Linked DNA regions of Homo sapiens: all the other regions are reported to be linked to region 3. The links are microRNA targets in miRTarBase. Many come from high-throughput screens and were not tested one by one. Region 3 holds a microRNA gene; each other region holds the end of a gene's coding sequence.
The links. Region 3 holds the annotated microRNA hsa-miR-3155a (CCAGGCUCUGCAGUGGGAACU, at 2,373-2,393, shown strand). A microRNA usually pairs through its seed, bases 2 to 8, with sites in the 3' UTR of a target mRNA and lowers its output. Matches are read on the target gene's strand: a 7mer-m8 pairs with bases 2 to 8, a 7mer-A1 pairs with bases 2 to 7 and ends in A, and an 8mer does both.

Region 1 (7,117 bases), not on the chromosome of region 3:
CGTTAGGCTGTGGTAGCAAGAGCCTGCTATTTAAAAAGTCTTACTCCTCATGAGCTGAGTGGACAGTCTTTTATTTGAATATAAAAACAACTAAAAGTGCTTTTATAAATATGGATGTTAGTTCTGAAATCTTGGGAAATGTGGCAGACTGCCACGGTTACTTGAGACATCTCTACGACAATTACTACTGTTACTACTTGAGACCGTCATTACGAGAGTTAACGAAGGAAGATGAAAGCAGAAATGAAAACTTAAAACAAAAGTAACTATTTTAAAGGAAGGGAAAGAAGAGAGCTCCCTGCTTCTAGTGAGCAAAGGCAACCGCCCGAGCTGCTACAGCCCTTCATATTTATTGGGTAGAAAGAGCAGGGATTAATTGATCACAGGTTCACATTATTGCTAACAGGCTTCAGATGTGTCTAATCACAAGAAACACTTGTGCCTGGGTCGTGACTGCCTTCAGCGTTCCTTCTGGGCAGCAGACGCAGTTTGTCAGTTTGCCAACATCCTGCTTTCATGAGAAACAGTTTACTGTTTACTCATAGAGCCTCCAGTGGTATACTGAGTTGATCATGACGCTCATTCTTTCGGCCTTCAACAGGGAAGGTCATTTACTCCATCCAGCTTTGGTTTCATTAAGTGTAAGATGGGGATAATGTCTGTCCTACCTGCCAGGTTCACAGGATCATTTCAGAATCAACTTGAGGATACAAAAATTCTGAACTGATTTACAAAGGCTCGGGATCATTATGCATAAGCGCACTCTGCAGTTGAGCTGACGGAAGCCCTGCAGATCTGTCTCACCTATTCTCTTTGCTCTCTCTGCAGTTAATCAGGATGTGCTCTCATGGAGAAGGCAAAATTAACTACTATAACTTTGTTCGTGCTTTCTCAAACTGACCTGCTGATGAGAAAATGCAAGACAATTTTTGATACTGGAACTATGCTTTGAAATACACCTTACACTCTTCATAGAGGCATTTACAGGGTTCCTGAAGTTTTATTTCTGTTTTGGTTCTTCTTTCACTCCTACTGAAGTCGAAACTAAATTGGATCTAATAGGATCTAAGATTGGTGCCTTATTTAGGGTGATAGGGGTATAGCAATGTCTAATTTTGTGTGTCAAATTGACTTGGCCACAGGGGGCCCAAATATTTCCTTTCTTTCTTTTTAAAAAAATAAATTTTTTTAGAGATGGGATCTCACTCTGTCATACAGGCTGGAGTGTGGTGGCACTATCCTAGTTCTATGAAGCCTCAGACTCCTGGGCTCAAGTGATCCTCCCACTTCAACCTCCCCAGTAGCTGGGACAACAGGCTCAAGCCACCATGCCCAGCTAATTTTTAAAATTATTTTGTAGAGACAAGGTCTTGCTAGGTTGCCTGAACTTGTCTCAAACTCATGAGCTCCAGAAATTCTCCCACCTCAGCCTCCAAAAGTGCTGGGATTATAGGCATGAGCCACTGTGCCCAGCCTCAGATATTTCATTATTCTGGGGGTTTCTCTGAAGGTATTTTTCGATGAGATAAACATTTGAATCAGAAGACTAAGTAAAACAGATAGTCCTCCCTAATGTGGGTGGGCCTCCTCCAATCATTTGAAGACATGAGTAGAATAAAAAGGCTGACCTTTCCCCAGGTAAGAGAATTCCTCCTGCCTGACTGGCTTCAAATTGGAACATCAGCCTTTTCTTGCCTTCAGACACAAATGGAAACATCAGCTGTTGGTCTGGAGCCTGCTGACCTTCAGACTGGACCTAAACCATCAGCTCTCCTAAGTCATAGGCCTTTGGATTCAGACTGGAATTATACCTTTAGCTCTCCTGGGTCTCCAGCTTGCCAATTTACCCTGCAGATCTTGGGACTTGTAAGCCTTCATAATTGTGTGAGCAATTTCTTATAACTCTCTCTTTCTCTCTCTCTACATATATATATATATATATATTTTATATGTACACATTCATACACACACACGCTTATATGTATACATATAGTATGTATATGTGTATATATATTATGTATATACATATATGTGCACACATCTCTACTAAAAATAGAAAAATTAGCCAGGTGTGGTGGCGTGTGCCTGTAGTCCCAGCCACTCGGGAGGCTTAAATGGGAGAATCACTTGAACCCTGGAGGCAGAGGTTGCAGTGAGCCAAGACCACGCCACTGCACTCCATCCAGCCTGGGTGACAGAGCAAGACTCCATCTCAAAAAAAAAAAGGTTAGAAAAATGCTGCTTTTAGAGAGCCTGGCCTTGAGAGAGGAAGGAAAGACTAGTTGCAGTTACTATTCTCTGGTGAGCTCTGACTGGCTTTTTACAAACAGGGCTTCTCTTTGGTTGAAGTCAGCCACTAAGTTCATCTTTAAACATGCTATCTCAAATTCCCCGAAGCCACCCAAAATGTGGTATGAATGAGGATAGAGTTACACAGAATTCAGACTGCTTTGCCCTCTCAGAACTTCTAGGGAACTTCCCTTGGTGTTTCCTTCCCTAACGAGCTCAGCCACTTGTAACCAGCTTATTGAAAGGGCTGTGAATGTATTATGTTGATTCCTTTTCTGTTCCAGGTTATTATCTTGGGAATAACCCATGTTTTGTTTTGTTTTACCCTCAGTCGCTCATAACTATTTAAAACAGTATCTCTTTCAAGTACAGATGCTCCTCTACTTATGGGGCTATGTCTCAATAAACTCACGTAAGTAAAAAATATCACAAGTTGAAAACACATTTAATAACCCTGATAAGCCCATTGTAAAGTAGGCAAATAAGTTGGACCATTGAAAGTTGGGGACTATCTGTATTTTAGAAGTTTTTTCAGCTTAAAAATTACCAAGCTCTATCCTACTTGGCCCAGCTCAGTCCTTCCCCCAGGCTTAGAAGCCTGTGGTAAAGAGTGTGTGTATACTGGGGTGATGATAGTGGTTTCTTCTTACTCCCTTCTTTCTGTCTTCTGCTCCCTTTGTTCCTATTCAGCCATGCTGCTGTTTCTAGCCCATGTAGGCTCTGGGAAAGGTTAAGCGGGTAGAAACCAGAGAAAAAGGGCAAAGTCTTATTTCTGTGGCTAGTAATGTCGTAATGTGGGGCCAGGTCTGAGTGACATGTGCCGAAAGGCTGACTCTTTCTCCCAGAGCACCTTTTCTCTCTTTTTGGATTCAGGGGGTACATGTGCAGGTTTGTTACATGAGTATATTGCACCCAGGTAGTGAGCATAGTGCCCAGTAAGTAGTTTTTCCACACATACCCCCTCCTTCCCTTCCCACTCTGGTAGTCCCCAGTGTCTATTGTTCCCATCATTATGTCTATGTGTATTCAATGTTTAGCTCCCACTTAGAAGTAAGAACATGCAATATTTGGTTTCCTATTCCTGCATCAATTCACTTTAGGATAATGGCCTCCAGCTGCATCCATGTTGCTGCAGAATACATGATTTCATTTTTTATGGCTGCGTAGTATTCCATGGTGTAGATATACTTCATTTAAAAAATCTAATCCACCATTGATTGGCACCTAGGTTGATTCCATGTCCTTTGCTCAGAGCCCCGTTTTGGTGAGTTCTTAGAACTCTTTCCAACCGGAAACTGCCCAGTGCACCACTCTCAGATGGACGGGACCCAGTCTGTACCTGATCACCCCGGCTCTAATGGTATGGTCTCCAAGGCTCCTTCTGATCTTCCCAGGAGGCCCTTTCAGGCTGACACACCTTCCAGGGTGTGCACTCTCGCCATGTTCTCACCCAGATGGCTCTCTTGGCTGTGTAATTAGGCAGCTCAATCCCTTTCCTTTAGACTGTTTCAGGGGAGAACCAGGTACCCCAAATCTTATGCTCTCCAAACTCCAGGGGACAGACACATGTCAAACCCTGAGTCTTTTAAAGTATACCCTCACTTAGCTTGCAGACCCAAGGCACTCCAGCCCCTTTCAAGAAGCTTGCACTTTCTGATATTTTCTCCATCACTCTTGCCTCCTGTGGTAGAGGAGCTTTGGGCTACTCCTTAACAAATCATTCATGGATCGGCAGCAAATCTGCAACATATGGATATATTTGCCAATTTTTGTCCTCAGCTTTGGGTCTCAGCCAAAATGGAGATTTAGGAAAGTCTCATTTAGCATCCTCTAGCCTGCTTTTGGCTGTTTTGTTTTGTTTTTGTGTTTGTTTTTTAGAGACAGGGTCTTACTCTGTTGCCAGACTGGAATGCGGTGGTGTGACCATAGCTCACTGCAGCCTCAAACTCCTGGGCTCATGCAATCCTCCTGCCTCAGCCTTCTGAGTAGCTAGGCCTGTAGTCTCAGAGGGAACTGTCTTCAATAAAGTTGGCACTGTCCACATACACTCCTTAAGTTTGCTGTCCACTTCTTGCCTTGCATCTCCTTTTAAGTTTACTTAAGACTGAGAAGCTGAGATCTGACAGCACCAACACAAGGTATAAAAGAGATTTCATGAAAGACCAAAGCCAGCAGGCCATTTCTGTGGTGTCCAAACACTCGCTGCTCACCTGTTTATACAAAGCAGCAAGTATAGGAGCCACAAACGTCAGAGCAAATCACTTTTTCTACTAAAATCCTGAATGGCAGTGCAGCCATTAGATGTCACTAATTACCTTATGCTACAGTCATAGCTGGCATGCATCTGGAGTGTCAGGTTCAGGTGGTGGAAGGGAGCTGAGCATTACCCTGTAGCAAGCAATATTGTAGGAAGCAGAAATGATCATCACTTCAAACTGGCCACCAGGGAGTTGAAAGATTCTAATACACACACACACCCACACACACACACACACAAAGAGAGAATGAGAATTATTAAGATTAGCACTGGTAGCTGAAGCTATCAGGTCTAACTGAAGCATTTGACTAAGACTGCTTATAGTGCTTACGGCTTTGGGACTAATAAAAATCTGCCTTGCGGGTAAAGATGGGCTGTGAGTTAGCCACTACTCAGAAACCTGGGCCTGTACCTTGTCTGCACCATCAGGGGGCCTTGAAAATACCATCCAATTAAGGTGTATCAAATCCATATCTATAGGCTTTGAGGGTATTTGGGACACATAGGTAGAGAAGACGTCTCTAAATGTTGTCCAGAGAATCCACTTGGTTAAGTGACTCCTGAGTATCCTGCTGGCACATAAGTTCATTTTAAAAAGCCAATATGAGTGCTTTATATGTACCATGAACTTAGCATTCAGTATCTCTAAATCTCTCACCATGACTCCCCACAAAACATGAAACCCTTTTGACACAGATGCACAAAAAGACTCGGAAGGGTTAACTGCTTGAGTTCACCTAGCTTCTCATGGCAGAGCAGGACCCAACTCTACAATGAAGCTTGCCATGCATCAGAACCACTCACCTTCACCTCAAGCAAACATTTCCTCTTTCTCACACCCCATGGGTGTCCTTGACTAACTGCCACCTGTAACTGCACTCATCTTTTGAGATCTTTTTCCAAAGAAAGATGGTTCTGGTAAACACAGCAAGCAGCTACAGCCAACAGCAGCCATGTAAGTGACACCAGCAATCCCCACTATTACTAATACTTGGATGTCTTCTAGTCAGCACCAACATATTTGTTGGCCTTTACACAAACGAAACCCCATTTCCTCCAAGCTAAATAACATCATAGTATAGTAGGCATCAAGGATGATGTGCTTGTTTCTGGAGCTTCCTACCCACAAACCCCATGTTAAGAAAACCTCTTTTCCACTTTACTATTAAAGAGTCAAATAAAAATGATGCTTATTGCTATCCAGCACTTGACATAACTGACTCTCCATCCTTAATTCCCTAATTCATATCACAATGGACAAATACGGGTCAAAATATATAAGAAATGACTAATATAGTGAAAAATAATAGACATGAGGGCTAAAATTCATTGCAAACTCCTTTAAGCAAACGTAAACATCCACGTTAAAAGCATCACTGTATAAAAGCACGTCAAGGAAATAATTATGAGACAATTCTGATAATTTTCTGCCTTTTATTGTTATTTCAGAAAATATTTGATCATTTGTTCCAAAATGTACATTTAAAAAATCCATACAAAACTGTAATTTGTTTTAAAACCAGACAGAAACAGTGGAAAAATGATTTTGAAAAAAAGTTCACCAAAAGCAAAAAGACACCCCTCCCCCCAACCCTTTTTTACATGAAAGCATAAATACGGCAGGTACAAATTTTCCTTGAGTTCCTTGTTGAAATTTGGTCCATATGAACAGGCTAGAGTAGAAAACAGACACTTTGTCCACATTTGCATTATCAGTTGCTCAGGGCACCAGCAGCCTTAGTTCATCCTTCAGATGTTTTTTTAAACAGAGGAACCGAAAAATGAGGTTTACAGTCTCATCACATGAACACTCAAATCTGTACCCAAGGAAACAGCGGTATTATATTTACTGTCACAGCTAGACCCTATCAGGTGAACAGGGCTCTCCACCTGCGGCTGTTGCTTCGCAAAATATCCTTCCTCTCCACGTGAACAAGTAGCTCTAGAGTGCTTTTAGGCAGAGTGACGGTGATGTCATGGGCACCACGCCAATCTTATTCCTGGACAATGACTTAAGCCCCATCGTGAGAATGGTTTTTTCCTCTTCAACACATTTTTTAAAAATAGACCTCTAAGATGATGCTACATGTTCTAAAAGAGTGCCACAGAAACCCACCCAGGATCACAAGAATGACAACAAAAGGAAAGTGGCTATTTCTTGTGTAAGGGATGACGACTCCCCCTCCCATGGGTCCCATTTCTCCCCCAGTTGCAGGTGTTTTAAGGGACAGAAAGGCTGTGGAAAGGACCACTGGCTGGGAGAGTTATTGCACAACCCGGAAGAGTGAGAAAAACGTGGGCGGGCAAGGGGTAGGGGAGAGGGTTGCTGCGACTAAAACAAGGTAACACTGAATTAGGAGCTCGAACAGTTCTGCAACAGTCAGACATGTATGTGTTTATGTGTTAGCACTTGGAGACTGGGAAGTAAAAGTAAACACCTTTATCATATAAACTTTGGGCTGAATGGGAAGCAAAATAGACCAAAAGAGGTTACGGCAAGTGGGCCTTTTAAAAAAAATCTGGGGGTGGGGAAAATAACGGAGAAGGAGTTTGCTATGTGGGGCCAGAGGA
Region 2 (7,117 bases), not on the chromosome of region 3:
CACTGCAACCTCCACCTCTCAGGCCCAGTGATTCTCCTGCCTCAGCCTCCCAAGTAGCTGGGATTACAGGCACGTGCCACTACCACCTGGCTAATTTTTTTTTTTGTATTTTTAGTAGAGATGGGGTTTCACCATGTTGGCCAGGCTGGTCTTGAACTCCTGACCTCAAATGATCCACCCACCTCGGCCTCCCAAAGTGCTGGGATTGCAGGCGTGAGCCACTGTGCCTGGCCGAGGCTAATTTTTTCTCTTTTTTTGTAGAGATGGGGTCTTGCTGTACTGCCCAGGCTGGTCTCAAACTCCTGGGCTCAAGCAGTCCTCCTGCCTCGGCCTCCCAAATTCAGATTTGTTTTTGAAACAGGGTCTCACCCAGACTAGAGTGCAGTGGTGCAATCACGGCTCACTGCAGCCTTGACCTCCTGGGCTCAAGCGATCCTCCCACCTCACCCTCCAAGTATCTGGGACTATTGGCACACGCCACCACACCCAGCTAATATTTGGATTTTTGTAGAGATGGAGTCTGGCCATGTTGCCCAGCCTGGGTCTTTAGATTTTTTTTTATAGATTGAAACCCATCACCCTGGTCGTCCCCGCTCCCATTTTCTTACTGTAGCAGGCTCGGGGGCAGATGGTGTTTGCATTGGCTCCCAGTGGGGCCAGCTTGGAGGAGAGCCTTCCTGCATAGCAGGCCCAGCATAAGGCTCTGATGCCAGGCCTGGCACAGGCCCGGCCGCAGCGATGCCAGTGTGTGACTGAACAAATGAACCTTTGGCCCTGTCTACGTTGTTAGCCCCAGGCTTGGCCAGTGGCTTCTGGAAAGTCGTTCGCTGCCCCGCAGAGATGTGAGCAGAGGTTGTTTGCTTGCTGTTGTCCCTCCTACCCCCTGTCCGGGCTGGGGTGGACGTCTGTCTTCCTTTCACTCATTACTATAGGGGTGTAATCTGTGTCTTGATCTCTTTTAGGGCCAGTATGGAAATTACCAGCAGTAAGGGACACACATTCTGGCTGGAGCCCTTGTGGTAGCGTGTTCATCCAGGGGCCGGATGGGCTGGCGGCAGCTCTGGTGAATTGTGACATGTTGGTTACCTGTTCGCCCAGTGCCACGTCTGCATGTGAAGCGTGCTCATTTCATGCTGGGTATGACGCCGAGCGCACACCACTGGCGTGAGACAGCGCTTGGTGGTGTGATACTTTTGGTGCTGTGTATAGTATTGTATGTCGGTACACGGAGAGGTATCCTTTTTTTGTCCCCCGCCCCCTTCTCAATGTTTCTAGCTAGCTTTGGGGGTCATTTTGTCATCAGAGCATTCTGTGCCCAGGGACAGGACAGATCTCGAGGACACCACAGTCCACCTGTTCCCGTCAACAGACGTTAGGTCTCATTTTCCTCCTCATGCAGTGTTGTAGTGTGGGTTGTCAACTTTTCTTTAACTGGCTACGCCACAGCTGGACACACATGCAGCCCCTGGAGGGCAGCCTCTTCCTGTGCCTCGATGGGGTGGGTGGGAGGGCATCTTCTGTGCGTTGGGTCAGTTTCTGTTACGTAACGAAAAGGATAAACATCTCCCACGGGAGAGGCCACAGATGGCCACTTCCAGAGCTTGCCCATTGCCTGTCTCTCGCCAATTCCGTTTATCCAAAAAGGTACATGTTTTTGTATTAAAAAGTAAACAGGGATCAGTGACTGTATTCCAAATAAATATGAATCCCTAAGGGCCGTGGACAAATTGCCTAACCCAGGGCCAGCGGTATTGCTGAAGGAAAGGGGCAGCTCTCTGGGAAGTGGGCCCTCAGAGATTACTCTGGCTTTGACCCTTGTTTAGCTGATGGTCATTTCTGGGATTGGAATATTTAATAAGCCCAATTCTAAGTTGATAGGTAATTTTAAATATTCAAACCAAATCTTCCCAACAGTTGGCAAGTTGTTTATTTTATATTATTTCTTCCAGGACCTACTTGCTCAGATCTCCAAGCAAGCATTTCTTTTCTTTTAGGGATGTCTGAAAGTCACATCCAGTTACATTACTGTGTTCTTTCTAATGAAAAGTAAAGGTTTTATATAGAGAAACTTGAGTAATTTTTACATTTCTAAGACATTAAATCCCATTTAAATTCTGTGTGAACATTAAAGACAGCACACTTGCAAAAGTATGGTCAAAGGAAAAAAATCCCACATTTCAATTAACAAGTAGCATGGACATTTGATCAACCTTTAGTTGGAATAATAATATTCATATTTGCTATGAATCCTTTTAAAAAAATCTTTGGATAAATGCTGACAGATTTCCAAGAACTACCAAGAAAATACAAGAGATATCCAATGCTTGATATATGAGGCCTAGTAATAACGATATTTCTCTTTAATTGATGTTTTGTTTTAAAAGTTAAAAGTAATTCTTGGCGTGGTGGTTCACGCCTGTAATCCCAGCACTTTGGGAGGCCGAAGCGGGCGGATCACCTGAGGTCGGGAGTTCGAGACCAGCCTGACCAACATGGAGAAACCCCGTCCCTACTAAAAATACAAAATTAGCCAGGTATGGTGGTGCATACCTGTAATCCCAGCTACTCGGGAACCTGAGGCAGGAGAATGGCTTGAACCCAGGAGACAGAGGTTGTGGTGGGGCAAGATCGCACCATTGCACCCGAGCCTAGGCAACAAGAGTGAAATTCCGTCTCAAAAAAATAAATAAATAAATAAATAAATAAGTTAAAATTAATTCTTTATCCAGAGTCGGGTGCTTTAGAATTTATAAGTCACTTATGTGTTTTGCTTGAATTAATTCTGACAGCCCCTATGAGGAAATCTGGAGGCAGGTAACAGTTCCCATTTTAGAGATGAAGAACTGAGGCACAGATTAAAGGACTTGCCTGTGTTGAATACCAGTCCTGTTCTAGGACATTCTCCCCTCTCCTAGGAGACGGATGTCACGCACAAATGGGGAGAGAAGTGTTTATTTTGTAGGCACTAAGGGTTTCTAAAACCCTTAACACTGGTAAGGGCTCAAAAATAAACGTATGTGTTCATATTCGATCACCGAAATGAGAGTTCTTAATTGCTAATTGACAAACGCGTTAGCAATTTCAGTTAGGGAGTCATCTCCCTTGATTGTGTTCTTTTCCTGTCAATTTTCATAGACCTAATTTGCAAACTCAATCGGGGACTAAAATTTCCCACTGAAAATGTTAAACATTTTAGATAACTGTGAAGATAGTTTATTTTTATTCCTTGCCAATCTGGGAATATGCCTTTTTTGTGTGTTTGTGTGTTTTTTTAAGTGCTGTATTAATAATACTTTCTGAAAGAAAAGGACACTTACCCCAAAACTTCAATCTGAAATGTCTTACATTAAGAATATCTTGAATGTTGTGTATATATTTTAAAAAGCACTTTGCAAAATAGTTTGTACATTTATTTCCTAATTTATACATGATTTTTGGTGTTAATATATTTAATGATTAATAACAGAATGTTTATTTAATGTGCTGTCCATTTTTATGTAATATTATGGGGAAAGTGATGCCAGCAGTTCCTTTTCATTATTCTATCTTCTGTCATATGAATGTTGAGCAAAGCTTAGGCCAACATGAATTGTTTGTGAAGTGTGGTTGATGGTGCTTTGTTTTTTTCTGACTACTTCTATGGAAGGCCAGTGAAGAAGCAAAGGAAGACATGAAAATTGACGCTCATTCTTCTTCCTATTGTTCCCTGACATCCAGCAAATTGTGAATTTGAAAAATGATGGCCAGTTTTCAGAAGTGCTGACAAATTCATATTGGTATGCAAAAGCTCATCACCCATTAAGGTTTGTTGTTGAATCAACAGTACTCAGCATATTAAAACAGTACATCAGAACTCATGCCAACAGTCTTTATGATGGGATTAAGGTGGACAAGATCTCCTAAGATCTGTGAATGGGATTAAGGTGGACAAGATCTCCTAAGATCTGAAAAGAAACCTTAATACGCTCATATGGTTGGAGTGTTAAGTGAACCTCTGATTTTGTCAGGGTTTTTCTACGTGTAGGCGTGAATAGGGGGCACCCCTTCAAAACTGTACAAAGAAGACGACTGTTTTCCATTTCCATTTAAACATTTTTAGCCACTTCATTTCTATTTATTGAACAGGTCAAATTTGTCTTGTTATTTGTGAGTACAGTACATTTAAAAAACATCCTTATCGGTTATTTTTTTTTCAGTCGGAGTTTGACGTATAAATTGTTTATGCTTTTGGTGTAATCTCTTAATAAACTGGTTCTTCAAAAATCATCCTATAAAGTGAGTTTTCATGAAGTTAACGGGATTTTGGTGTGATGTGTTTTGCAAATACTTATTACCGAGACCAGGTAGATCGTCACCTCGGCTCCCGGGCAGAGTTCGCGTGCGTCCGCACCGGATTCCCCGCGGCGGCAAGGCGAAGCCAGGGTAAGGGCGGTGGGGACGGCGCCCCGGGGCTGCCCTGCGGTCCCCACTGCCTGCTCTGCGTTGCCCCGTAGCCTCCTCGGGCAACGGCGGTGTCCTCGTCAGACCCGGGAGGTTCCGCAAACGCCGGAGGGGTCAGAGAAGCTGGGGGACCTTGGGCACCGGGTGGAACGGGCGGGGCGGCTGTCCTTGTGCTCGGGCAGCGAGGGCGCCGGCGAGAAGCGCGGCTGCAGCTGAGCGCTCCGCATCCCTCCTGCCGTTGCTCCTGCTTCCGCTACCAGGGACAAGGTCGCCTCTCGGTCCGTCGGCGTGTTTTCTGCACCTGCGCACTGGGCAAGCCTTGGGCTTCCGGAGCCAAAAGGCCCCGGAAGTGGTCGGCCGCTTGCGACGCTCCGGAAGTGACGTGCTTTCCCGAGCCGGTGAGTGCGGGAGCGGGGAGCGGGGAGCGTGGGCCTGGGGGGTGGTCGCGGCCCGGGCGCAAGGAGGGGCCTCGGCTTGGGCCGCGGGGTACCGGGGCGCTGGGAGCGGGAGAGGCCCCGGCCTAGGAGCTGAGAGGCCTGGAGGGCTGCCGGGCTGCGAACCCCGGCGGGACCGAGCGCTGCGGCCCTGGAGTAGCGAGCGCTCGGGCGGTGGGGAGCGGCGCCTTGCTCCCCGGTCCTGCCCCACTCTCTCCGCAGAACCGCGTTTTGGGGTCAGAAGTCTTGTCAGCCACCCCGGTGGTGCTCTGTCACGGGATGGGTGCCGTGTGTGAGTTCCGAGTCAAGTTGTTAGGAATTTGCCTTGATCCAGCGCTCTAAGTATTAAACATTTTAAAGTGATTATTGGCAGTATACAGTTGCACAAAACAACATAAATATATACACATTTGGATGATAAAACAACAATAAAGTTTTGTATTGTAAACGCGCCTCAGGGAGACGCATTTCCAGATAATTCACTGTCCGTGGCTGGCTTCTGCCCAGTGAGAGCGGGTTACCCGTTCTATTCCCATTTACGTTCTCGTAGCTGTGGATACCGAGGAACGGCGTTCACACAGACCTGTAGGTGGGAATTAGAGGGGTTGTTGGGCAGTGTCACTAGAGAAATACCTTTCTTTTGTAAAGGGGAGGACCCATTATAAAAGGGGGACGGGAAAGGAGAATTCAAATTGTTTTAAACGCAGGTTCGTCCTCAGGCAGTTCTGTTTTAGCAGAGAGAACGTAGCGAAACTTGGGCAGAAAATGGATTCCTTTGAAATTATCCTGGCCTTAGTCCCTTGGGAAGTCTGTGTAGGCGAACCTCAGTGAGAAGATTCCTGCCGTAAAATGCAGGTGTCAGCAGCATGCCAGGGAGGCCAGAGGATACTATGTGACTTTGGGCAAGTGACTGAACCTCTGTGAGTCTCAGCCTCCACTGCTTTAGATGGGCATAAAAAATGTAAAGTCAAGAATCAGGTTTCCGCTGGGCGCGGTGGCTCACGCCTGTAATCCCAGAACTTTGGGAGGCCAAGGCGGGCAGATCACGAGGTCAGGAGTTAAAGACCAGCCTGGCCAACATGGTGAAACCCCATCTCTACTAAAAATACAAAAAAGTAGCCGGGCGTGGTGGCAGGCGCCTGTAATCCCAGCTACTGGGGAGGCTGAGGCAGGAGAATCGCTTGAACCTGGGAGGTGGAGGTTGCAGTGAGCCGAGACCGCACCACTCTGCTCCAGCCTAGGCAACAGAGCGAGACTCTGTCTCAAAAACATACCCAAAAAAAAAAAATCAGGTTTCATGCTCACAGGAGGATTTGAGGAGGGTTTATAAAGGGACCGTTTGCAAAGGCAGAGTGCAGGTTAATGACAGTTGGTCCTTTAGCCTGGAACTGGTGGCAGTGGAGTTTCTACTCCTGGACTCCAAAGGATCAGGGAAGGCAGCAGTGATCGGGACAGGGAGAAGAGTCACTGGGGAGGGCTTCTTGGACTGGAGGTGTGAGCCTCAGTCTGAGTGGGCAGGGAGGTCCATGTCCCGGCCTCCTGCTCCTGCCTCCAGTCTCTGGTAGAGGGCCAGGTCCCAGTAGGTTTTCCTATGGGGCAAGCTCAGGCTCCTGACACACAGCACAGGGCAGGGTGGAAAGCTGGTCTGGAAAAGCAAATGGAAGATAGCTCGGCATGCAGTATTACCCCTCGCAGGGTATTATCGTTAGGAATACATTTAAAAGTGGATATATTGGTTGGGTGTGGTGGCTCGCGCCTGTAATCCCAGCACTTTGGGGGGCCGAGGCAGGTGGATTTCCTGAAGTCGGGAGTTCAAGACCAGCCTGGCCAACACGGTGAAACCCCGTCTCTATTAAAAATACAAAAATGAGCTGGGTGTGGTGGTGGGTGCATGTAATCCCAGGTACTCGGGAGGCTGAGGCGAGTGGATCACTTGAACCCATGAGGCGGAGGTTACAGTGAGCCAAGATCCCACCATTGCTCTCCAACCTGGGCTACAAGAGTGAAACTCTGCCTCAAATAAAAAAGAAAAAAAATGGCCAGGGCGTGGTGGCTGATGCTTGTAATCCCAGCAATTTGGGAGGCTGAGGTGGGCGGATCACGAGATCAGGAGTTCAAGACCAGCCTGGCCAACATGGTGAAACCCTGTCTCTACTAAAAATACAAAAATTAGCTGGGCGTGGTGGCATGCAGCTGTAATCCCAGCTACTCGGGAGGTTGAGGCAGGAGAATCCCTTGAACCC
Region 3 (7,117 bases):
ACCTTACTATAATATCCTCCAGTTCCATCCCAAGGATTTCACTCTTTTTTATGGCTGAGTAGTATTCCATGTTGTATATGTACATTTTCTGTATCCATTCATCTGTTGTTGGACACCTAGGTTGATTCCATGTCTTGGCCGTTGTGAATAGCGCTGCAATAAACTTGGGGTTTGGATGTCTCTTCACGCCTTTTAAGTTCATGCCTTTTCTGTCACCTTTTCCATTGATTCTATGCACATAGCACCTCTTGCAGGCATATCTTGTCCCATAACCAGACCGGAACACTCATTTGTTCTCAGAATGCTTTCTGCATGGTAACTTGGAGAGCTATTTGAGTTACGGTCTATACCTCATGCTTATATTGGACCTGGTGGTAGCAAGTGTTTCATAAATTCTTCTACTTGGTTAATCTGTCATTTTCTTTTGGAATGAGTAGTTGCAGAGCCACATTAAGATCCTTATAGGCCAGGCACGGTGGCTCATGCCTGTAACCCAGCACGTTGGACGGCTGAGTAAGGTCAGAGGATTACTTCAGACCAGGCGTTCGAGACCAGCCTGACCAACATGGTGAAACCCTGTCTCTACTAAAAATACAAAAATTAACTGGGCGTGGTGGTGGGCGCCTGTAATCCCAGCTACTCAGGAGACTGAGGCACGAGAATCACTTGAACCTAGGAGGCGGAGGTTGTGGTGAGCTGAAATCGTGGCCACTGCACTCCAGCCGGGGCGACAGAGCGAGACTGTCTCAAAAATAACAATAATAATAAATCCTTATAAACCCTAAATGCTGAAAGATGATGGCATTTCCCCATGCGTAATTTAAAATAAAGACAATACCCAGGCTGTGCGTGGTGGCTCACGCCTGTAATCCCAGCTCTTCGGGAGGCCGAGGCGAGTGGATCACTTGACGTCAGGAGTTTGAGACCAGCCTGACCAACATGGTGAAACCCCGTCTCTACTAAAAGTATGAACAATTAGCCAGGTATGGTGGCGGGCACCTGTAATTTCAGCTATTCCGGAGGCTGAGGCAGGAGAACCGCTTGAACCTGGGGGGGCGGAGATTGCAGTGAGCCAAGATCCTGCCACTGCACCCTGGCCTGGGCGACAGAGCCAAACTCAGTCTCAGAACAACAACAACAAAAAGCAAAAATTGCCTATCATTCATGACGGCAGGGGAAGAGTTCCAAGATTTCCAGCTGGGCGGTTGAGACGGTGGACCAGGACAGCAGGGAGACGGACACAGGGAGGGAGCCCCAGTCTGTGGAACACCATCCCACTTACCGTAGCTCCCCACTGGCAGTGTGTATGAGTCTTGGTGGTATCTTGTGTGCGGGTCTGAGCTAGGGGGCGTGGCCCCAGGAGCATCCAAGGTTCTGGTTGGGGCAGCCACAAGGTGTCTGAAGAGCAGCGGGGTTTGGTCGTCCTGGCACTTCCGCAAGCAGCCTTTCCAGCTGTAGCTCCGGAAGGTGCTCTGACATGACAGTTCAAAAACACACTTCCCCCTGGCCTGGGCTTCAACACTCACTTGTCAGAAAGTGAGGTCCTGTATGCCCCAGTCCTCGGCCAGAGAAGCAAGAAGCAGATTTCCCAGAGGCTGTGGCCCCTTGCATTGGTGAGGACACTGGGGTGCTACCTCTGTTTGAGGGGTGACTGACAACTGTGCTTTCTTAGGGTGGAGTTGGTCTGCTGTCGTGACTGTCTGCTTGAGATACTGACCCCTGGCGATCAGATTCTGGAAGTCCTCTCCTGAGGCTGCTGAAGTCGTCCCAGAGGCTTGTCCAGCCACAGCAGTGGAGAAAGATCCAATCAGGCAGGCAGGGGCAAACGGGAAGTCGGGAGGGTACCCTCCCCGCTCCCTGAGAAGTGTGGACTTTCAAAAGGAAGTGAGAAAGAGGAAGGTCTTGCCTAGGCATGGGGTAGACCTGTTTGATGCAGGCGGACTTCAGGGAAAGCTGGTCCTCAGTGCCACAGTGCTGTGGCTGTCGGGCGGCAGGCACTGGCTCACAGCCGTGGTGGGGACGCCTTGTTTCTCGGAAGGACAGAACCGCCCTCCTGCAGCTCCTGTTCCTGGCTTCACATTAGAATTAACTGGGGAGCTAAAAAAAAAAAAAACCTGATGCCCCAGAAATTCTGATTTGATAGTTTCTGCCTTGATGCCTAGACAAAAAATGTCCTGAAACAATACTTCACCTCAGACAATACTGTACATGCTGATGTTTTCTAGTCTGTTCCATTTCATTAAGAAAGATTCTGGTCTTATTCCAGTAAATTGATTTCAAGGCCACTAATGGGTGGTGACCCACACTTTTGAGATGCCTGTTCCGGGCATCACCTCCCACTGCAGAGCCTGGGGAGCCGGACAGCTCCCTTCCCAGGCTCTGCAGTGGGAACTGATGCCTGGAACAGTTCCTGCAGCCGGTCTCCAGTGTGATTCAGGTCCTGCGGCAAGTTCTAGGTGGTCCAAGTGAGGCAGAAGCCTTGCTGGAGGCTTTACCCGTCCACACTGCTGTGGAGCCTCTGAGCCTCCATGGAGGCTCCCCAAGCCAGGCAGCAGGGGAGGAAGCGTCTGGTAGGAGGGTGGAAGGCATCACGATAACTAGCCACCTGCAAGGGCTAAATCTCTCTGGGACGTTTGCACGAGGAACATTCCGAACCCATGAATAGAGGAGGGCTGCGGATCTGGTAGCTGAGGAAATTCAGTAGAAAAGCGAGAAATGTATGCCAGGTGCAGTGGCACACACCTGCAGCCCCAGCTACTTGGGAGGCTGAGGTGGGAGGATTGCTTGAGCCCAGGAGAGTGAGACCAGCCTGGGCAACATAGTGAGATCCTGTCCCTACAAATAAAAAATTAAAAAATTAGCTAGGTGTGGAGGCATGTGCCTGTAGTGCCAGCTACTTGGGAGGCTGAGGTGGGAGGATTGCCTGAGCCTGGGAAGTTGAGGCTGCAGTGAGCCTTGATCGTACCGCTGCACTCCAGCCCGGGCAACAGAAAGAGACCTTGTCTTTAAAAAAAGGAAGAAGAGGCTGGGCACGGTGGCTCACGCCTGTAATCCCAGCACTTTGGGAGGCTGAGGTGGGCAGATCACCTGAGCTCAGAAGTTCGAGACCAGCTTGATCAACATGGTGAAACCCCATCTCTACTAAAAATACAAAAAAATTAGCTGTGCATGGTGGTGGGTGTCTGTAATCCCAGCTACTCGGGAGGCTAAGGCAGGAGAATTGCTTGAACTGGAAGGCATTGAGCCAAGATCATGCCACTGCACTCCAGCCTGGGAGACACAGCGAGACTCTGTCTCAGAAAAAAGAAAGAAAGAAAGAAAGAAAGAAATAAGAACAGAGAAAAGCAAGAAATGTAATTGAAAGGCCGATGGGCTGCCCTGTCCTGCGGGTGCCTACCCTCATTTATGATGCAACTGAAGTCACTTCCATAAGCTCTTCGGTCCTTTCAGCAGTGCCCAGTAGGCCAGGGGCGGATGTAAGTGCAGAGGCTGCGGCAGTGAACAAAACAGACAAACCTCGGCCATGGAGCTTACATGTGAATGGGGTAAGCCTGTGTGGCTTGGTCCTTGGTAGATGCTTTGAGTGGCTGGTAGGAGGTCATGGTGACCTCCCTGGGTTGGTGAGCAGGTGAACGCTGCATGTGTCAATGGATGTGAATGCCAAGAAGAAAATAACTCAGGAAAGAGGAGGGGGAGGGGCTGGGCGAGGTGGCTCACACCTCTAATCCCAGCATTTTGGGAGGCCGAGGCAGGCGGATCAGTTGGGGTCAGGAGTTCGAGACCAGCCTGTACAACATGGTGAAACCCCTGTCTCTACTGAAAATACAAAAATTAGCTGGGTGTGGAGGCAGGTGCCTGTAATCCCAGCTACTCAGGAGGCTGAGGCAGGAGAATTGCTTGAACCTGGGAGGTGAGGTTGCAGTGAGCTGAGATCGCGCCACTGCACGCCAGCCTGGGAGACAGAGCGAGACTCCATCTAAAAAAAAAAAGAGAGGGGAGAGGGAGTCAGGGACCGGGAGGGAGGATTGTGGTTGCACACAGGATGGTCACTCCAGGGGACATTTGGACCAAGACTGAGGGGAGTGAGACAGCCTGAGGGGAGTGAGGCAGCAGACAGTACCATTAGCTCAGGAGCATGTCCAAATAGGGAAGTGCGAGGCAAAGGTCCTGTGGCCAGAGCGGCTGAGTGCAGGAGGAACCTGCGGGCCAGCACCGCTTCTGCAGGGTGAGAGGGTGGAAGCCAGGTGGACACAGGCTTAGGAAGGGAGTGGCGGCTCAGCACGTCCTCATCTCCCATGGTAGGGCCTTGTTTGGCCTCTCAGCTGGAGACAGGAAGGCCTGGGAGGGTTTTGGTGGAGGTGTGGGCTGAATTAATTTTTTTTTTTTTTTGAGGCAGGGTCCCACTCTGTTGGCCAGGCTGGAGTGCAGTGGCGCGTTCTCGGCTCACTGCAACCTCTGCCTCTCGAGTTCAAGCGATCCTCCTGCCTCAGCCTCCAGGGCAGCTGGGATTACAGGTGCATGCTACCGCGTCCAGCTAATTTTTTTGTATTTTTAGTAGAGACGGAATTTCACCACGTTGGTCAGGCTGGTCTTGAACTCCTGAGTTCAAGTGATTTGCCCGCCTCGGCCTTCCAAAGTGCTGGGATCATAGGCGCGAGCCACCGCGCCTGGTGGGCTGAATTAACGTGACACCATAAAACGTCTCCGCCACGGGTGGCTACTATCCTGAGAGCAGACTGTGGGGTGGCGGGGGAGGCAGGAGACCAGGTGGGAGTCTCTGGGCCTGCTGCAGGTGGCTGCGATCAGGGTGGTGTTGGGGGTGGCTGGATTCTGAATATATTTAGGAGGCAGAGGCGGCGGGATTTGATGGATTTGCTGTGGGGTGAGAGAGAGTGAATCATGGGTAGCTCCCCCAGCTGCCTTCTGTCTGATCTGGGGAGACGCTGGGAGCCAGGTGGCCGAGGCGGTCGAGGCCTGGGTTGTAGTGAGCTGCGGGGAGCCCGCACTGCCACAGCAGCTGCACCTCCTCTAGGCCCTGTCCTTGGTAGAGGCTGTGAGTGGCCCGTAGGAGGTCATGGTGACCTCCATGAGCAGCTCTGTTTCTGTCTGTGGTTCAAAAGGATGGGACCCAGTAAGCAGCCTTCCAGAAAAGTCCACTGTGCCCCAGGTCAGTCATCAGACAGAGCCATTTCAAGAAGCAAATGACTTGGACAATGGGGGCTGATGCTTACTGCCACTGGCAAAGAATTCCGAAAGGTTCTGAGGGGTTTACTCCGGGCACTGAGCATGCTCTCTTCCAAGCTGGGAGAAAAGCACTTACGAGTTTTTTTCTTTTTTTTTTTTTTTGAGACGGAGTCCCGCTCTGTCGCCCAGGCTGGAGGGCAGTGGCGCGATCTCGGCTCACTGCAAGCTCCGCCTCCCGGGTTCATGCCATTCTCCTGCCTCAGCCTCCCGAGTAGCTGAGACCACAGGCGCCCACCACCACGCCCGGCTAATTTTTTTTGTATTTTTCATAGAGACGGGGTTTCACCATGTTAGCCAGGATGGTCTCGATCTCCTGACCTCGTGATCCGCCCGTCTCAGCCTCCCAAAGTGCTGGGATTACAGGCGTGAGCCACCGCACCTGGCCGAGTTTTTTCACTTTCCCAGGGTTTCCGTGTAAATACTACACAATTACCAACCAAATGTCTGTCCTTCCTCCGTTTCCATAAATGTCAAGGGCTCCACTGTAAGGGGGAAGCATGGACCCCCACTCCAGGAAGACTTCCTGGACAGACCCCACCCAGGCACCTGCTGACCGGGTTCACTTCCAAATCAGGATACTGGCTTGTCCTGGTTTGTCCATATTTCCCCGGTTTCAACCTCGACAGTCAGGTCACCCCTACCTCCAGCTAACCCTCGTGCCACAGGCTTGTTGAAAGTTAGATGGCCTCATTTTAGAAAAACAGATTTAAAAACCTCATTCGTGTTTGAACATGGAAAGAAAGAATAAGAAAGTAGGCTTTATGGCCCTGGGCTACTGGCTTGAAACTTTGGAAGATATTTTTCTTTCTTAAAATGTTTTTATGTTTAGGAGATATGTTCTACATGCACATAGCGAACATCCTACCCAATAGGCAGTTTTTCAACCCTCACCCCCGCTGCCATCCTCCCAACTTTTGGAGTCTCCAATGTCTATTATTCCATCCTGTGTGTCTGTGTGTTACCCATTGTTTAGCTCCCAAAGAAGAGATATTATATATATGTACATATATATGTGTGTGTGTGTGTGTGTGTGTGTGTGTGTGTGTATTTTTAGAGGCAGGGTTGTGATCTGTCTCCCAGGCTGGAGTGCAGTGGCACGATCATGGCTCACTGCAACCTCCACCTCCCAGGCTCAAGCAATCCTCTTGCTTCAGCATCCTGAGTAGCTGGGACCGCAGGTGTGCGCCACCACAGTCTGCTTTTTTTTTCAAACTTTTTGTGGAGACAAAGTCTCCTTGTGTTGCCCAGGCTGGTGTCCAACTCGTGGGCTCAAATGATCCTCCCACCTTGGCCTCCCAAAGTGCTGGGATTATAGGCATGTGTCATCACGTCCAGCCTCCAAAGAAGAGCAAATTCACTTTAAATTAAATTAATTAATTAATTAATTACTTTTTATTTATCTTTTTTGAGATGGAGTCTCGCTCTGCGGCCCAGGCTGATGTGCAGTGGCACAATCTCGGCTCACTGCAACCTCTGCCTCCCAGATTTTAAGTGATTCTCCTGCCTCAGCCTCCCACCACCACCATGCCCGGCTAATTTTTGTATTTTTAGTAGAGATGGGGTTTCGCCATGTTGGCCAGGCTGGTCTCGAATCCCTGACCTCGTGATCCGCCCACCTTGGCCTCCCAAAGTGCTGGGATTAGAGTTGTGAGCCACTGTGCCTGGCCCAAATTCTCTTTTTAAAGTATCTGGGCTGGGCGTGGTGACTCACGCCTGTAATCCCAGCACTTTGGGAGGCTGAGGCAGGTGGATCACCTGAGGACAGGAGTTCAAGGCCAGCCTGGGCAACATGGCAAACCCTCTTCTCTACTAAAAATACAAAAATTAGCTGGGCGTGGTGGCAGGCACCTGTCATCCCAGCTACTTGGGAGGC
Region 4 (7,117 bases), not on the chromosome of region 3:
CACCTCCCGTGTGCACACTGCGGGCTGGTTCCCCTGTGCTTCCCATTCTGGGACTCACCTTTCCCCAGGATGACTCTCCTGCTCCTCTCTTCTCCCTCATTCTTTTTCAACAGCTGCAGAGAACTCTAAAAGCACAGAAGGGCCATGATTTATTTGGCCATTCCCTGCTTGGTGAGTATTTGGGTTGTTTCCAGTTTTTCTCCATTGCAGACAAAGCTTCACTAGGCAGCCTCAAACACACACCCCTGCACACACTCCCTGGTGCACACATGCCTTCCTGAGTCTAGATGCCTAGAGGTGGAGGATTGCAGACGAAGAGGGTGGGCACCATTTCATTTCTAAAGTAGGACAAGACAACTGAACATCCCCCCATGCCTCAAGATGGGGGCTCACAGGGCCAGTGACGAGGAAAGGCTCTGTCCCTTCATCACCAACACTTGTGCCTTTCTCTTCCTCTTCAGGTACAAGGTGACCTGCCAAAGCTCAGAGCTGGCCAAGGACATCCTGGTGCCCTCCTTTGACCCTAAGAATAAGCACTGTGTGTTTCAAGGTGACCTCCTGCTCTTCAGCTGTGCAGGCGCCCACCCCAGGCACCAGAGGGTCTGCCCCTGCCGGGACTTCATCAAGGGCCAGGTGGCTCTCTGCAAAGACTGCCTATAGCAGCTACCTGCTCAGCCCTGCACCATGCTGCTGGGGAAGACAGTGGCCCCAGCCCCGTCAGGCAGGGCCAGGGACAGAAGTCATGCAGGGACTCTGGCAAGAGCCTGAACTTTTTCGTAGAAGGTTCTGAATTGGCATTGCCCTTGCTGCACTCCGAGCAACCCAGTGGAGTCTTCACCAAAACAAAACAAGAGCGTATGTCAGGCCAGGAGCCTGGCTTGTCCCTGGCACAACATCATTTCTGTTTCTCAAGGAGCAACTGTGGGAAGACTGTCACTGCAGCTGCTCCAGGGCAAAAGAAAGTCTCAAGAGTCCTTTAAAACAAAACAGGAGGAATTGAGCTGATGGGAAAGAACTCTGAATGGGAATATTCCTAAACCCATTAACTTATTTATTCGGGTGGGAGGGAGGGGACCGCGGGAGGGAGAGGAGGGATTGATCACAGGCTTCTTTTATTTCCACTGTTAATCATCCACCTTCACTATACTGTTGTTCTGTCTGCTTTGGGCAGGGTGCAGGAGAGAGACCGTGTGCCGTGGGGCTGGTGGCCTGCTCAGGGACAGCCATGGGGACCTGGCAGCTCAAAACAGATGGCAGCAGAACAAAAGAAACTTTTGCTTTGGAAGCACAGCCAAACTCCCCAGGGCATCGTCATAGATGGCACCTAGAGCATGGGCTGCCTCAGTCAGGGGGACGTGCCTGTGTTGTCCAGAGAGCCCAGCCAGGGACGAAAAAGGAGATGAGGCCCCTTTCCTCCATGTCCCCATGCCCAGACACATACCTTGGCCGTAATTTCTTTTAGAATCCCTTTGGGAAGGAAATACAGGATTGAGGGATTTTGGAGTTTCTGGTAAACTCACCCTCCCTCCAGCCCCGCTATGAGGAGGAAAGTAGAGATGAAAGACTCACGCTGTTCATGGACTTGGAGAGGATTATCTTTGAGCCAAGATTTGGACAGGAGTGAAGTCGGTCCTTAAGAATTTGTGGCGCGACCGGAGCTGGGCTCCTGACAGGTGGGCTTGTGTTGTGTCCCCTCTGATGGCACCAAAGTCCAGGGAAGGGGGCTCTTGATGTCTGCTGGGGGAGTGGGGGCAGCTCAGGATGAATGCAGTGCCCTGTCCTGGCTACTCACCTGAGGGTGTAGCTCGCAAAGGTGGGAATCTGGTGCTGGCTTTTCCTTCAGGCAGGATCACTCTGACTTGTTGAGTAATCAGTCATCAGGTTGGCCTGGTCAGACACACTGGACCCCACCTTCCAAACCCTGGACCCCCCCATGCTCTGCCTTTGTATAAGTTCCCACCCCACTGAATCATTGCTGCCATGCTCTGTACAAGTTTGTAAGTTTCTGAAAAGCCCCTGACATCTCCATGCTGATGCAAGTGAGACCCCTTCTGCCTAATGTGAGCGGTTGGCGTCCTCCACTTGGCCTCTGCTGGGCGCCTCAGTCGCTCAATGATGTGCTCTGTGCCGGGGCTTCCAAGCACCCTTCCTGCTAACAGAGGGCGGCCCAGTGGAGCCTCCGCTGGGCAGAACTGATGGGCAAGGCGTAATGGCTGGTAGCTTTCAGAATGTGAGGGAAAGGAAGAATTCCGCTTCATGGGGACTAGAGTTAGTGTGGGGCCTTTAAGTCTGGGAAGTTACATTCTGCTTCTTTCTCAATTGCTACACAAATGTGCAGCCAGCCTTTTTTCTTAGGCCCACTGAGATCCCTGCTCAGTGCGTCTCAATTGTATCTCCAGTCTAAGAGGAGGGTGGGGGGCACCCGGGGCCTCCTCCACTCCTTAGGTGGCCCCCAAGCACATCTGCCAGGTAGAGTACCATGGGGAGGCCTCTGCCCTGAGCATCATCACAGGGGCGCCTCCAGACCTGGCTGAGAATAGCCTCTGCTTGGGCCTAGGAAGAAGGGCAGAAGTCCAAAGGAAACCTTGGTGAGTGAGTGTGTGTGTGTGTGTGTGTGTGTGTGTGTGTGTGTGTGTGTGTGTGTATGAGCCTGTGCATTTCTTTTAAGCAAGGGCAGTTTCCTGCAGTAGGAGGGCAGATGACTGGCATCCTTGCTGTAAGGAAGAGCTTTTTCCTTGTGAATGGGCCTCTTGGCTGTACCCTAGGGTGTGGGAATTTGCTAGAGTTCCCTGACCTGCAATCCCTGGGCCAGTGCCGCCCTCTCCTGGGCTCTTCCAGGAGCATTGAACACTGAGGATGTCAATGCAAGTATCTGACCAACAGGGGGAGCCTGCAGGCCGAGCAAAGTTTAACCCACTTAGCCACTGCTACTTAAGCAAGGAAGCTGAAAGGTAACCTTAGCCCTGCCTTGTGTTCCAAAAGCTGCAAGGATCATTTGCTGGCTGTCCCTAAGTTCAAGGCCTCCCTACCTTCCCCTTCTTTTCCAAGTCACAACCCGCCCTGCCCGGGCCAGACAGCCCAGAAGAACACTTTTCTGCCATTTAAAAATCCCTCTTTCATCCCCCCCAGTCCAGTATTGAGTGGAAGTGCGCCGGAGTTCCACTGACAGGGCAGCTGCTCTTGGAGCAAACAAGCCCACACTCCAGTTGTTTAGGGCATTATCTGAAGAGTCAGTGACCCCTGAATGTGTACTGGCTCCCAGGCCTCCTCAGACTTGGCCCAGGTCTAGTCAGTGATCCTGGAGAGGAAACTGGGGAGGGGGCTTCCAACTGCCCTGCATGGAAGAGGAGAGGAAGGTGCCCCTGTGTGGGCTGGAAGCCTGCGGAGGTTTTGCCATTGCTGATCTTGATAGAATCCTAAACCGATTTATAGCTGATAACAGTTCCATGGGGAGAGAAATCCTAAGTTATGATTAATGTTTTTCCCCGCTATAATATCTTGCCTGTTTTTTTGGATTATTTTCCCCATTGTGATCCTAAGCTCTTAAAAAACTTGAGGGAAAACATTCATCTAATTTACTAAAAGAGAAAGCTTTCCATTGAAAGGTAGATACTTTGAGGAGTAAAAAGACTTCTTTGAATGCTGGTAAACACCGCATTTATTTTGTGTATGCAGTTTGATTTGCACATGTATAAATGGAGATGCTTTTCATTTTTGTTTGGACTGGGTTTGTGTCACTGCTCATTACAGTTTGCTTTTTTGTGTGTTTGCTGTGCGTTTGGAGATATTAGTCAGTTTCTTTAGTGATATTTGTTTCCTTGATGTGCCTTTTCGTTTTTCTTTGGGGTTTTTGGAATCCGGATGCTGTTGAAGGGCAATAGCAGACTCCTCCAGCTAAGAGACAGGACATGTTCTTGAGCCACTGTAGCTGTTGAAGCTGGACACCAGACGCTCCCTATAACCCCCCCGCCAGGCCATAGCGTGTATGCATGTGCACTTCCACCCACAGAGGAGGGTGTGAAGCCTTGAGAACCTCAAGAAAGGGCTGGATTCTGCCATACCTTTGGGTCTACCTTGGGACTGCTGGTTGCCAACGTGTCAACCAGCCTGTGTTCCCTGCCACCCACGCACTTGCTGAGGTGTGGCTGAGGCAGAATCATGTGAATGGGTGCATCCAAGGAGTTCAGGGCCCTGCTTGGAGAAGAAATACTTTAGCATCATGAAAGGGAAAGAACGTGCACCCCTTTTTTGTTTCTTTAGTGAATGCAAGATTTAATAAAAGTGAATAATGAGCTTCCCCTTTGGGAGTGGAGCCCAGTGCAGCTCACTGACAGGGTTGACATCAGTATGATGTGTTGGACTGAAACTGTATGTCTGTAGGTAGGTGTGTGCCTTTTAGGGCAGACCACGGTGGCCACCCCATTTCTCCAAGGTGGTTTACCTAGCTTGTGTATATTAGACATTGCCACCCTCACCTCTGGCCAAAAATTCTTGATTTAAAAAGAAAAGTCTATTTTGTTAACGACAGGCTCTGTTGTATGTGTTACTATCCCAAGCCTGGATTATTTTATTTATTTAAAAGTATTTTAATTTCCATATTGGCTTTATTCTAATCCCATCCATCCCTGTGGAGCTGCAGAGCATCTTCATGTGAGTAGACGGATGGACATAAATAGATTCATGCTCATTTAGGAAGCTGGGAGTTTCGTGAAGCTGAGGGTGAGTTCCTGTGATTCTTGTTCGCTTCAACAAAAAGTGGGAGACCAAGTTTTTATAGCAAAAGACCAAATTAGCTGTAGAGTCTTGAATGCAGAAAAAAATTACCCTAGCTTTCTTAGCACTTAGGGTTTTGTGAGGATTCAGTGTTTAGCACAGTGCTTGGCACATAGTAAGCCCTAGTAAATGTTAAATATTGTTATTAGTGTTTCGTAAAACTTGAGAAATAGAGCTGAGCTCATTCCCTTCCTGTTGATTCAAAAATAATACCTACATGAAAACATGATTCCAAGTTGATTGAATGTTGTAGGAATTACTGGTTTAGAGTAGCCCAGTTCTCGGCCTACCCTGCTGGTTGGGATCTTACTGTATTCTTGAATGCACTGGTTTGAAAATATGCCAGACTTCAGCCCCCAAGGAAACAAGGCTGCAAGAATTTATGAACTCCAGCTGGAAAAGGTAAAGGTGACCTTTGGCTAGCCACATACTGGACCTTACCCCACTGACGTCTTTCAGAACATTCCAAGGGTTTTCCTCAAGGAACATTTTTGAGCTAGAAATTAAAATGGGTTCTCTGGCAGACTGCACCCCTTGAGTCAAAGTTAACAGTATTCCTTTGAATGCAATAATAGAGGCTTTTCTGCGTTAAGGGAGAAGGAATGACCAATTGAACTTACACATTCCCCAGGCAGGTCCCTTTGCCGGCCCCTACAGGCTGGGGTGGCCCCTCCTGTCCTCAGGGATCAGACTCCCAGACTGGTTAGTTCTGCATGTTTCCATCAAATTAAAGGTTATTCCCTGGCCGCCTCCTGGAGAAAACCAACCCCACCCTGCCAGCTGGGGGCAATGGGGCAGGGATTTTGGCCTCTCAGAACAGCTCCTAGAGGCTGCTCATGACTGAATGTTTTCCCAAATCACCTAAATATCGGTTTGCTTTTTGTTTTGGGGGAGAGGATTTAGCCTCTTACTTCCCTGATGGATTCAAAGTTTTATCTATCTCCTTATCTCCTGCCCTGTCTTGGCACAACTCTGGATAGATTGCAGGTGTGGAATTTGCTGGAGTTTGGTGACTTCGTCAAATTCCTTTGGATTCTGTTCCGCCAAATCAGCAGTCTCGTCCTGTGGATGCAGTGACTGGAATTTCCCATCTGCAAAGCATCTCTGTAGCCCAGATTTTGTGGAGCCTTAAGACACTCCCTCAATGCCACCCTGACCCCACGGCTGGAGAACCCTGTGCTTATGTGGTGGGCAGGGCCACTGTTGATGGAGGATGGCGGGGACGGGGTGGTGCTCAAAGGATCTGTGGTGCTGGAGGTCTACACGCCTCTCAGGACAGCGTGTCAGGAACCTCAGAGCAGCTTCACATCTGCCAAAGCTGAGAGGGAGCGAACTTGGGAAGCATTTTGCTCATTGTCCTACCCAAGTATTAATAGCATAATAGTTGATGCCAAAGGAGATGGTGACGTCCCTTCCACTGTAGTTGCTGTCACAACCTTGACGTCTTTAAGCTAATGGCCGTTTGCATCTGTGTCTTCAAACAGATCCTGGTTACAGCCATTTTGTGTGATTCACTTCGGGGGTTAAGTAATGCAGGATTCTGCAAACAAGGTGTCGCCGTCCAAATGTACTGTCCTGGCATAGAGAGCACTGCTTTGTTTTCCACTGTTGTAGAGAAAACTAGGGAGAACTTTATTTTTCAATAAACTTTTCTTGTGTGACAGGTGGAAGTGATTTTTGGGGGGGCGGGTGCATGCAGGGTCACCTCCAGAACAAAGCTGAGCTGCTGTCTAGGCGCGTCCCCAGCACACAGCTTCCCCCAGCTGTATTTCACGGTTTGCAGCACACTGTTGAAACGGCTGGTAGGAAGACAGGAAGGTATACTTAAGGAGTGGAGAGGGGAAGGTTTTACTACTGTGTATTCCTTCCCTTATATCACATCCACCACTACTCATGTTAGCGCACTCTCCTTGTGCTGCCTTCCCCTAGAAGGAAATTCAATTAGAAAGTGAACTGCTAGATTTTGAGAAAAATCTTTAAGAATGAGCTAATAAAAATAGCTCTATAAGGGGCTGAGCACCAGCGACCATTGGACCTAGAATAGATTTCTCCCTTTCAAGAGCAGCTTTTGAGCCAGGAAGCAGTGAGCCATGAGCAGCTGGTTAGGCAAATGCCCTGGAGACAGGGAAGGTTAGTCCATGCCCCACCCAACAGTTTGTCTGCAGATGACACTGGCCCTCATCTGCATGGCCTCTCTGAAGCTGGCGGGCCTCCTGGCTACGGCCCAAAATGGACACCCCACACAGTTCACAGAGCATGTTAGAACACAAGGGAAAGCCGAGTGCCTACATTTGGGCAACGCTACCAGTGTCACTTCCCCTCCCTGAGCTTCCATGATGTATAT

Region 1: the mRNA of EFHC1 is a reported target of hsa-miR-3155a. Seed matches in the 3' UTR shown: 7mer-m8 at 1,732-1,738 and 7mer-m8 at 2,250-2,256.
Region 2: the mRNA of SS18L1 is a reported target of hsa-miR-3155a. Seed matches in the 3' UTR shown: 7mer-A1 at 2,481-2,487.
Region 4: the mRNA of MGAT5 is a reported target of hsa-miR-3155a. Seed matches in the 3' UTR shown: 8mer at 761-768, 7mer-m8 at 870-876, 7mer-m8 at 2,647-2,653 and 7mer-m8 at 2,887-2,893.

What each region holds. Positions count from the first base shown.
Region 1 is chr6:52,491,442-52,498,558 of GRCh38, forward strand. EFHC1 (EF-hand domain containing 1) reads left to right here. Exons shown (of 11, transcript NM_018100.4): 11 at 829-5,757. The coding sequence ends at 900. TRAM2 (translocation associated membrane protein 2) reads right to left here. Exons shown (of 11, transcript NM_012288.4): 11 at 5,967-7,117. Among named protein-coding and RNA genes, the nearest start is that of EFHC1, 75 kb to the left of the region's middle. RefSeq lists a silencer at 6,373-6,574.
Region 2 is chr20:62,178,220-62,185,336 of GRCh38, forward strand. It overlaps SS18L1 (SS18L1 subunit of BAF chromatin remodeling complex), which reads left to right. Exons shown (of 11, transcript NM_198935.3): 11 at 963-4,295. The coding sequence ends at 989. It overlaps MTG2 (mitochondrial ribosome associated GTPase 2), which reads left to right and starts at 4,809. Exons shown (of 7, transcript NM_015666.4): 1 at 4,809-4,838. RefSeq lists silencers at 4,438-4,627, 4,667-4,851, 4,858-5,027.
Region 3 is chr10:6,149,875-6,156,991 of GRCh38, forward strand. It overlaps MIR3155A (microRNA 3155a), which reads left to right and starts at 2,322; the gene lies at 2,322-2,403. It overlaps MIR3155B (microRNA 3155b), which reads right to left and starts at 2,388; the gene lies at 2,333-2,388. It also overlaps a transcript of PFKFB3 not described here. RefSeq lists an enhancer at 1,692-1,741.
Region 4 is chr2:134,448,188-134,455,304 of GRCh38, forward strand. It overlaps MGAT5 (alpha-1,6-mannosylglycoprotein 6-beta-N-acetylglucosaminyltransferase), which reads left to right. Exons shown (of 16, transcript NM_002410.5): 16 at 462-6,434. The coding sequence ends at 660. Among named protein-coding and RNA genes, the nearest start is that of MGAT5, 200 kb to the left of the region's middle.